2 separate regions of the Homo sapiens genome follow, and region 1 is linked to region 2. The links come from fine-mapping of genetic effects on plasma protein levels. Region 2 holds a variant in brackets. A gene starts in the other region. All regions are shown on their forward strands.

Region 1 (5,370 bases), not on the chromosome of region 2:
TGGAGCGCAGTGGTGCGATCATAGCTTACCTCAGCCTCGAACTCTTGGGCTCATGCATTCCTCCTGCTTCAGCCTCCTGAGTAGCTGGGAATACAGGTGTGCACCACCACATCTGGTCAATTTTTAAATTTTTTGTAGAGATGGAGTCTCACTATGTTGTCCATTCTGGTTTTGAACTTCTGGCCTGGAACCTTCCATCGATCCTCCCATCTCTGCAAGCCTAGACATTTAACATGGTCTAGAAGGCCTCCATGAGCTCCATCTCACCTCTTTTTTGCTCCTTCCGCTCCGGACCTTTACAAGTTGTGGCCATTCCAAACTCCTTTCACTTCTGATTATCTCATGTTCTCTCTCACCTCCCCGCCCATGCAATGAGGTTCCTCCCCAACTAGATTCTTATTCCTCTTAGATTCTCAGAGAAGCCTTCCCTGAAAGAAGCCGTCTCCCATCTCCCAGATTGGGTTAGGCTCCTCCTGTGTGCTGACTTCATTGTCTCTCTCCAACATTGCTTAGAACGCTAAGTTGCAACTTTATGTCTAATTGATTGCTCCACTAGTCCATAAAATCTAGGAGGAAAGGGCTGTATCCTTAGCCCTTGACACATGGCCTTGTACATCTTAAGTTTGCATATGAACCGCTTTATTTACCTGGGATATTATCTTACTTAATCCCCAAGACAACCCTATACGTTGTGCATGATTATTCCAATGGTCATTACTGTTATTTTAAATAGAGATGGGGGCTCACTATGTTGCCCAGGCTGGTCTTAAACTCCTGGGCTCAGGTGTTCCTCCCACCTTGGCCTCCTAAAGTGTTAGGATTACAGGCATCAGCCACCATGCCTAGTCGATTATGCCCCTTTTAATGGATGAGCAAAGAGTCGAGGTTCCACTGGTTTTCCACTGCAGTGTCTCTGCTGAAGGATTAAAAAAAAAAAAATCACAGGGCTGTGCTGGACTCCTGGGACTTCCAGAGGACAAGTCCCTCTCTTCAGTGAGGCTGACCTACACAGAGCCAGCCCTCCTTCCCCTCCCAGCCACAGCTGTGTGTTGGAAAGCTAGAGGCCTGGGCCCCTAATAAAGAGCAGACCTCCCAATCTCCTCGTTCCTTCCCCCTCCCCTCATATGGTTTTTCAAATTAAAAGCAACTAAAACCAAAGACCTAAGGAGCAGGAGAGGGCAGAGGCACAACAACATCCCTAAACTGAGGAAGGGGGCTCTCTAGCGAGGGAGGGGGTATCCAAAAGCCAGATCCAGAGGGTTCCAGTCCTACCAGTCTGTCCCAGGCTCTAAGGAGTGTATGGCCCACCGGGCTGGGCTGGACCAGGAAACAAGCTCTTGTCCTCAGGTCTGTAAACAGGCTGCGTTGTTAGGAACCCTCTGCTTCTACTTCCTGAAGAGCAAGCCCCCCAAACCCAGAAGAGAGGCTGCACCTTGAGATCCAGCCAGCAAGGTGGGTGCGGAGTCCTGGGGAGGGAACTTTCACCTCAAGCTGCACAGACCCATCTCGATCTTTTTAGAGAATTCCTCCTTTTCCAGGACTAGTGCCGTTCTGAATTCTGAGCGTGCAAAGAGACTCCTTAGAGCTAGCTTCCGAGCCTCAGCTGGGGCAGACCAGAGGCCAGGGCGTCTCTCTGTCTGCGGGGACCCCCCACATCTGTGCGTCACCTCCACCACCTCCGGGCAAAGGACCCTTCCTCGCTGGACCCAGGGAGGCGGCTATTCCAGATGCAGCCAAGGGTTAAAGGGGGTGGGAGAAGGAGCAGTTAGCACCGTTTTCTTTTGCAAACCACCAAACGGGCCCTTCATTTTCAAATTGTGAAGCCAGAAACATCCCCCGTTCCCTTGCCCCGCCCATCACCATTTGAAAAAAAGAATTCACAAGTTTAAACGTGATTTTCACAACTAACGGCTTTGATAACTGTTAAATTCGTACGGCTTCTAGGGCAAACGGACCTGAATTCTTCAAGGAAAGTAGAATTGGCGGTGGAGCTGGGGGGCAGAGGAGGAGAAGACACAAAAAGCCAACTCAGTGGGAAGCGCCCTCAAAGCCAAAGGTGTGGCGCTCGGAGCTGTGGCCGCCCTCGCCCGGGAGTCGGGGCCAGGAGAACGGGCCCTGGAGGCAGGGCAGGGCACGGCGAGATTTTGCTTTTGTTTTTAGTGACCATTTTGATCTGGTTGTAAAAAGTTTACGAGGCCTTCTTTTTGAAAGTCAGCTAATCGACTGCACCTTTTTATACCCTTGCCCTCAATTTCATGTCGCCTGCTGGCCTAGACGCGCAAGGCGGAGGACAGAACTGTCACAGTCCCTACCCTTTTCTCCCAACTTCTCGGCCCGGCTCAATTCGGGAGTTGGGCCTCCTTCCTCTCGGCTCGCAGCCTCCCCGACTCCCACTTTGGGGAGAAAACCCACATTCTTAACCCCTTGATAATCCCTCAAGGAAAAAACAAAACAAAAAACCCCAAGAGGTTGAAAATTAGAATCCGGGCGCGGGTTGAGATCTGCGCAGAGCTGCCCAGGCCAGTGCATGTCGCTCCTCTCCTCCGGGTACATATGGTGGCCTGGTCCCCTCCCCCCACCCCCCACACGGTGCCCAGTGAGAAGCACAAGAAGGGGAGAAAAGACCCGCAGCCCGCCTCAGGAGGGCAAGGTTTCTAGCCCCCTGCGGCTCCGGGACCACCCAGGACCCGGGGCGTCGTGGGACCGATCTCGAAGGATCTTAGAACGACACTGGGAGAGCGCGGCAAGAACTAGCCCCACCTTCCCCCGACGCCCCGGACTGACTGCCGGGCGCAGACCCGACTTCTCCCGAACCAGCCTCGGACCAGCCTTAGAAGGCGGAAAACAGGATTCAAACCCGCCTATGAGCAGTGGTAGGGGCGGGGGCTGTGGGGGCAGGACTCGGTTTAAGGAACCAACCGCCTCGGTTCGAGGGCCTCCTGTCCGGAGGTTGCTCCTGACCACTGGGTTTATTTTGCTTTTGCAGAGGAGGCAGATGTTGACCTCTCTTCTTTGCACAGTCTCTCCGCAAAATTTTCCCCCAACCATTTGCTTTCTTGCGCCACCCCCCACCGGGGCACTATCCCTGGAGTCAGCTCCTCAGGCCTTTAAACCTTCCAGAATGTCACACATGGAAACCTTTAGCAAATGTTTGTTAATGATCATAACAAAGGCATCATTCAAATTAGGCAGGTAATTACTACCAGAAGGACAACTGGGTGCTCGCTTGCTCATCCATTGCTTTCTGCTTTAAACTCCCGAGGAGTCGCTGCCTGGAGACACTCCCGCCCGGACTGCTTCTCGGGCCCCATTAAACGGCTCTGAAATGAACTGTGAAGTTACCATTTGTGGGCGGAGAGCGCTGGGGCCCTGCGGACGGAAGACCCTGGCTTGACCGGACTAACAGTGTCGCCGAAGCAAAGCAGCCCCTCTGGGTAGGCTGTCTGTCTCGCCTCCTACCCTCTGGGGCAACTAGCCTAAAAACCCGGTTCTCAACTTAACAGCATGTGGCCCAGCACCCGCTTTTGCCTTTTATTCCGCACTCTGATTTTTGGGGGGATCGTTTGTTCCCGCTCATTTTCTACAAACATTACGGTATCCTGTTAGCATTCCGAACAAGGGGCTGTTCATATATTTGCCTTCAATGATTTCCTGAAGGGACATGTGGAAGTAATAGCGAGCGGTGCAGTCACCCAAGCTGAAGATGCACGAGAGCGGGTCGCGTAGAAGAACTGCGGCAATGGGACCCCCAGCGCAGCCCCAGGCGCCCTGTTTTCGAGGCTGACATCCCAAGATCCTGTCCTGGTTAGGCACAGCACCGCGCCCGTTGGAGTACTTCTCTGTGACTCTCCCCTGTCCACTGCACTGTGTCCACCCTCCTGGTGAAGGAGGAGACGGCTGTTGGACATGCCAGTCCCAACCTGGCCACTTTGGCCATTTTCAGAGTGCGTGTGTTGGGGTGGGGTTGAGGGAGAAGGATGAAGGATGACCCCCAACCCCAACAGGAGAATTCAAAAATCAGAGAGCGATGAAGGTGAACGCGCTCCCCTCCCCCGCTGTCGCTGGGAAGCCCCACTCTGCCCAGGTCTGGTTCCTGGAGCATCAGCGCCCCCTTTCCCTCGCCGGCAGGATCGTTTCCTCCCGACACTGGCCTCTCGCCTTGGGCGCAGGGTTTGGGGCTCAGCTGTCAATTCCAAGGAATTCGTAGGGTTCGACCCACGCGGCGGGAGGGAACGGAGGGAGAATCAAAAGGCATCCTCCCCCACGACGCGGAGGCGGTGGTACGATTCCTCAAACGCCCAAGCTTGAGCTTTTTTTGTATGCGAGATAGAAGCCAGGGCAACCTCGCCCAGATAACCCCGAAAACAAAGGCACGACCAGATAAGTGACTTCAAGGGAGTAAAGGTCGTTCTATCGGAGAACGTTCCAAACCTACACAGACCCTCTTTTCTTTGTACCGTATTTCAGACCACCCAGTCTTGTACACACACACACACCACACAAAACAAAAACCCATCATTGTCATATTGGACTCAACAGTTTGCCCAATCCTATTAAATAACTAGCAACTATATAGCCCTTCCCCTAAAAGACCCCTAGTTCAAAACGGCGCAACCGCTTGGAGATTTCTCCCGAGGGCCCTATTTCTCGTTGGGCCGAGTTTGTAGAAGGGACATTTCTTGATTCTAGATTTATATTCTCTCTGGGTATTAAATGCAATTTTGTATGTTCCTTTTCTTCTTTTCAAAGAGAATACAAAACTATAGCAGTCTAAGAAAATAACCCCAAAATGGGGAGGCAAACTCATTCTGGAAATGATGGGCTGTTTGTAGTTTCACAAAACCTCTTTCCCGGCAGAGCACCAACACCTCCCCCTTCCACCACCCCCCATCCCATCTGGTCTGCTTCTCCCCGCCCCCCAGTTGTTGTCGAAGTCTGGGGGTTGGGACTGGACCCCCTGATTGCGTAAGAGCAAAAAGCGAAGGCGCAATCTGGACACTGGGAGATTCGGAGCGCAGGGAGTTTGAGAGAAACTTTTATTTTGAAGAGACCAAGGTTGAGGGGGGGCTTATTTCCTGACAGCTATTTACTTAGAGCAAATGATTAGTTTTAGAAGGATGGACTATAACATTGAATCAATTACAAAACGCGGTTTTTGAGCCCATTACTGTTGGAGCTACAGGGAGAGAAACAGAGGAGGAGACTGCAAGAGATCATTGGAGGCCGTGGGCACGCTCTTTACTCCATGTGTGGGACATTCATTGCGGAATAACATCGGAGGAGAAGGTAAGGGAAAAGAAAAAATGATTTTTTGTTTATAAGGGAAGTCCCTGATCAGACTCTGGGACTGGAGAAAGCGAAGTAACTTCA
Region 2 (5,374 bases):
TGTGTGTGTGTGTGTGTGTGTATTTTAGTCTGCCTATGCTTCTTTGTCCTTCTTGGATTTGTGGTTTGATAACTTCCATTATTTTTGAAAAATTGTTGGCCATTTTCTCTTTAAATGTTTCCTCTCTCCCATTCTTTCTCTATTCTCTGGGATTTCAATTACATATATGTTAGGCCAGTTTACATTGTCCCACAGTTCTTGGGTGTTCTGTTCTATTTTCTTTTTTTTTATTCCTTGAATTTCAGTTTGGGTAATTTCTATGAACCCATTTTCAAAGTACTGATTTTTTTTTTCTCAGCTGTATGGCATCTACTGATGACCCTGCCTAATACATTCTTCTTCTCTTTTACTCTGTTTCAAAATTTGCTAATATTTCCATTTGACTCTTCGTATAGTTTCTATCTTTCTGCTGAAATTCCCCATCTGTTTATGTATGTTGTCTACCTTTTCCACTAGAGCCTTTAACATGTTAAATATGGTTGTAATTAATGGTTTGATTTTAAAATTCCCTATTTGATAGTACCAACATCTGAATCATCTTTTAGCAGTTTCTATTGCTTGCATTGTCTGTTGACAGGATTTTTAAACCTTGCTTTTCTGTGTTGGCTCATTGTTTTTATTGAATTCTGGACATTATATGTGGGACAGTAGGAACTGAGGTAAATTGCATTTATGATTAGAAATGAGAACCCGTCTTATTCTGGTAAGCTCTTAGTGTGGGCCAATCTAGTCAAGAGTTGAGCTGGGTTCGGGTTTTATTATTGCCATAGTTACCTTCAAATTCTTCTAGTGTTATCTTGTGCTTGGGTGGAGGCAGCATTTCAGTAGACCAAGAGCCGCCGGTACTCCTGGATGGTATTTTCTCAATTTTCCTGCACTACCCCAACTTTAGGACTTTCTAAAGTATGTGCCTGCACCTCAGAGATTCTCTCTTCAGTGGCAGAGTACTTTTGCTTCTTATTCAGTACTTGCTAGCCTGGGAGGTAGGGCAGAGATTTATCCATTGTGAAATTGCCTTTGCAGAATATATATATATAAATAAGGAGAGAAATCTGGCTGGGCGTGGTGGCTCATGTTTGTAATCCCAGCACTTTGGGAAGCTGAGGCAGGTGGATCACCTGAGGTCAGAAGTTCGAGACCAGCCTGGCCAAGATGGTGAAATCCAGTCTCTACTAAAACTACAAAATTAGCTGGGAGTGGCGGCAGGCGCCTGTAATCCCAGTTACTTGGGAGGCTGAGGCAGGTGGAGAATTGCTTGAACCAGGGAGGCAGAGTTTGCAGTGAGCCAAGATCCCACCACTGCACTCCAGCCTGGGTGACAGAGCAAGACTCCATCTCAATAAATAAATAAATAAATAAATAAAAATAAAAAATAAACGAATAAAGAGAGAAATCTAACATGACTGACTCCATCCTGCTTCTAACCCACAGGCGAGTTTTTTTTTTCTTATTCTAGCATGGAGGTCAAAATAGCTATGAGTGACGTTTATAGTTAAACTTTGAGTCAAGGGAAACTGAACTCCCTCCTTGTTCAAGATTGAAACTGCATTCATAAGACAAGGTTAAAATACGGTAGGGACTTTAACTTTGCTGAAGAATAGACTCAGTTAAACAATGACCTGCCATTGCTTAGTGTGTCTTCCTCACTTCCTTGCTTTCCATGTGTCCTTACAGTAGCATGTTGCTTACTGCACCAGAGTCACGTAACCGGGGATTGCAAAATTTATAACTTCCCCAACTACTCCTATAGATAACATCACTATTGTGAACCCTGAAGAACGAGTCTTCGAGGTATTTTTCAGATTCAACATTTCAGTAGACCAAGAGACGCCACTAGGTCCTGAGATCCACCCACTCCTGGGAACTGACTTGGCTGCGTGAAGACAGCTTTAGACACCCCTGTAATTTCATCCCCAGCCAATCGATTGTTCCAGTTTCCAAGCCTCCTGCCCACCAAAGTACCCATGAAAAACCCTAGTCTCTGAATTGTCAGGGAGATGTGTTTGAGAAATTGCTGCTTGCTCTCTTCACATGGCTGGCCCTGTGATTATTAAACTCTTTCTTTGCTGCAATAGCCGCTGTTCTTGTTGATTTTTTCAGGGCAGTGGCTAAGAAGAACGTGTGGGGCTGTGACAGCTGTTCTAGTCCCGCCTCAGTTTTAGTCGGGCCTTCTGTCCCTGGATCTTGAGGATAGGGCTTTTTCAGTGATCCTAGATCTCACTCA[A/G]TGGTAGAAGACCTGTAATCATCTAGGCTTGGGATGGTTTCCAGCCCCTTCCCCAAGGGTAGAGAGTTGTTTTTTGTTGTTGTTGTTGTTGTTGTTTTTTCCTGTTCCTTTCCTCCAGGTGTAATGGGCTCTTTTCCTCTGCTCTGTGCCCTGGGCCCTTATTCTAGTGATTTAAGACATTTGTTCCTTAGAAAAAAGGATTCAGGTGGGCTTCATGCCTTTCCCAGAATGATGGCTGCTCCATTACCTAGGTATGTATTCCCTGGCCACAAGCTTTTCATGAGCTCTGGTGGAGGCCCATGAAGATGCTTCAAATGCGTAGGAATGGCCCTTGTATCATGAGCTCTCAGTTCTTGGCCACATCTGGCTTTCAGCGATTTATTAAAAATTTTAGCTGAATTCTTCTAACCCATTTGAATGGTAGCCCTGCCTTCCTTCCACGCTGTCTTACAGGTGAGCCTGTGCTCATATCCTAGCCCTCTTTAGAAACACCTGTCTTTTCTTAGATTTCAGGGTACTTGGTTGCCTCACTACCTCAGCACTCTGACGGGTTCAAGAAAAGTTATCACTTTGTGTATTATCTGTTTTTTTTCAGGTGTTTCTAATTAATACAGGTTTTTTTGGGGGGGTGTTTCTAATGAAAACATTTTAATGAGGCTGGTTTTCACAGCTGTTTTTATACCACAAATCAAAATGGCCAAGTCCAAAATGAAAAATCACCAGAATGGCAGGGCATAATGAATTTAAGCACAGAAATTAGATGAAGTTATCTGTTTCTCACATGACTTGATAATCTAAAAAGCAGAAAGTAAAATGGTATGTTTTAAAAGTTATCATCAAAAGTGTCCTTGAGGTCGGCACTGACTGTGTCCTGATGGCCATGCAGGCAGGAGTTGTGCTATGTAGGTAGGCTCTGCTATTTGCTCTTCACACGTCTGGTTAGTTTACAATCTCTCCTTGTTCTAAGTTTTCACCAAAGCCTGATACTGGCTTTTGTTTCCCTTGAGGCTATGTTGTTTCTCATATAAACATGATTTCCATTTTATGACTGTCCTAACCCTTCATGGTGCAAGCCTGTTTCTCTGAGCTACTATATTCTTCATATATTTATGTTATTACTTCTTACTATTCAGAAGTACCTTAATATTCAGAACTACCCTTCAAATTGGAGGGCTCTTTTCTGACCATATTCTCAGCTGTTGGACAGGGGACAGGGACCGATCATGCTGGGTGGTTGGAAAAGCCTATGGGAGGCCAAGTAGGGGAGACCTACTGCCAGGACTATCACTCCAAGCTCGATTCTTGGGCCTTCCACCTTCACATTCTAGAGGAAAGCATATTGCCACTCATCCAAGTTGTGTGCTGTGATTGCTAGTGAAATCTGATCAGCTCCGGGGGCTCTCAGCTCTTGGCTGTCAATGCAGGGTGATAGTGGGCTACAGGGGGAGGAGGTAAAGAAGAGAGATTATGCAGATATGTCTGAAATCACAATCTTTCTGATTAGATATTTTGGCTCTATAATCAATTGTTTCTTCTAACACTCACACTTTTCCTCAATTTTTATTTATTTATTTATTTATTTATTTTGAGACTGAGTCGCTTACTCTGTCACCCAGGCAGGAGTGCAATGGCGTGATCTCGGCTCACTACAACCTCCACCTCCCGGGTTCAAGCAATTCTCCTGTCTCAGCCTTCCAAATAGTTGGGATTACAGGCACGTGCCACAACCCCTGGCTAATTTTTTGTATTTTTAGTAGAGATGGGGTTTCACCATGTTTGCCAGGCTGGTCTCAAACTCCTGAGCTGAGGTGATCCACCTGCCTCGGCCTCCCAAAGTGCTGGGATTACAGGCATCAGGCATCGTGCCCAGCCTCAATTTTTAATTCTACGACTTTCTGCTCTAATTCAGGTGAAGCACAGGATAGGTTTGTATTGTTTTTATATCTGTCTCCTGCAAATATCCTATCTTTCCCATTGTAATGAGGGTTCCTCAGGACAGAGACCACTGTTCTTCTCATTTCTTCATTTCTTCCTCCCATCCATCCCCACCCCATCTTTCTTACCTAGCAGAGTCAACATTGGGTTAGAGCACTGCATATGGGTTGAGTAAATCAGTCACTAGTTGATCCCCATGAGTTATTGCTTTCCTGCTCAGAATTTGTTGCTATTGCCACTCTCAGTATCATTTCCCTCCAGTGATTCCTGAAGACCTCATTTTACTTCTGTAATTCTGCCAGGGACCAAGTTAACTGCAGCCTGCTCTTCTGCTCCAGTCACAGTAAACTCTTCTCCTAGGGTCTCTACTGAGACTGGAGGCCACAGGAAAGAACAGATGCTGAGCAGGAACCTCCACTGTCCTCTCGTACAAAATACTTTTCCCAGTTTCTAGAACGATAAACCGCGACCCGATTGAAGGGCTTTTCCATAAGACTACTCAACCAGCAGCAATACTTACCTTCATATTTGCAACTTTACTGAAATACCTTGGTCAGAGGAGATCTCCTTTTAATTTTTATTGTGTATTTATTTAGTAGAGGCAGAGATCTCCTTTATTTACATTCCAATCACTTTTAGGATCTGTCCTGCCTTATCAATCTGCCAATAAATGCACAAAGAGAAATGGATGATGGGAACTTGATGGTGGCAAGATTTGTTTCTTTTTTCTTTTTTCTTTTTTCTTTTTTGACAGAGTCTTGCTTTGCTGCCCAGGCTGGAGTGCAGTGGCATGATCTTGGCTCACTGCAACCTCCACCTCCTGGGTTCAAGCAATTCTCCTGCCTCAGCCTCCCAAGTAGCTGCGATTACAGGTGTGTGACACCACAGCTGGCTAATTTTTACATTTTTAGTAGAGATGGGGTTTTACTATGCTGGTCAGACTGGTCTCGAACTCCTGACTTCAAGTGATCTGGCTGCCTCAGCCTCCCAAAGTGTTGGGATTACAGGCGTGAGCCACCATGCCTGGCTGACACGATTTGTTTCAAACTGGCCCTGGACCCGGCACCCTCCCTTCTGCTTCTGACTCCTCACACATCAGTCCTTCTTCTTTGGATACCTGATTAATGGACATTTCCGGTTCTCGACCCTTCTGCTTTCTCTCCAGGGGATGGCTTACATCTTCCTTCCTGGCTAGCACCTTTTTAGGGTGGCACT

Which allele goes with the higher level. Alleles are on the strand shown, and positions count from the first base shown. The strength of an association depends on the size of the effect and on how common the allele is.
As copies of G replace A in region 2, the plasma level of the protein whose gene starts at base 5,164 in region 1 goes up (moderate association).

Evidence for each region. PIP is the chance, under the fine-mapping model, that this variant and not a neighbour inherited with it causes the effect. The UK Biobank Pharma Proteomics Project read protein levels with antibody pairs (Olink). The fine-mapping took linkage between variants from a reference panel, not from the people measured, so its PIPs are less certain.
Region 1: it holds the start of PDGFRA, and the variant in region 2 is fine-mapped to the plasma level of the PDGFRA protein (UK Biobank, PIP above 0.99).

The regions. Positions count from the first base shown.
Region 1 is chr4:54,224,130-54,229,499 of GRCh38, forward strand. It overlaps PDGFRA (platelet derived growth factor receptor alpha), which reads left to right and starts at 5,164. Exons shown (of 23, transcript NM_006206.6): 1 at 5,164-5,286. RefSeq lists enhancers at 1,155-1,982, 1,983-2,808, 3,637-4,462 and a silencer at 2,327-2,514.
Region 2 is chr1:161,570,221-161,575,594 of GRCh38, forward strand. No RefSeq gene overlaps it. Among named protein-coding and RNA genes, the nearest start is that of FCGR3A, 23 kb to the left of the region's middle. The variant A/G (reference allele first, on the strand shown) is at 2,225.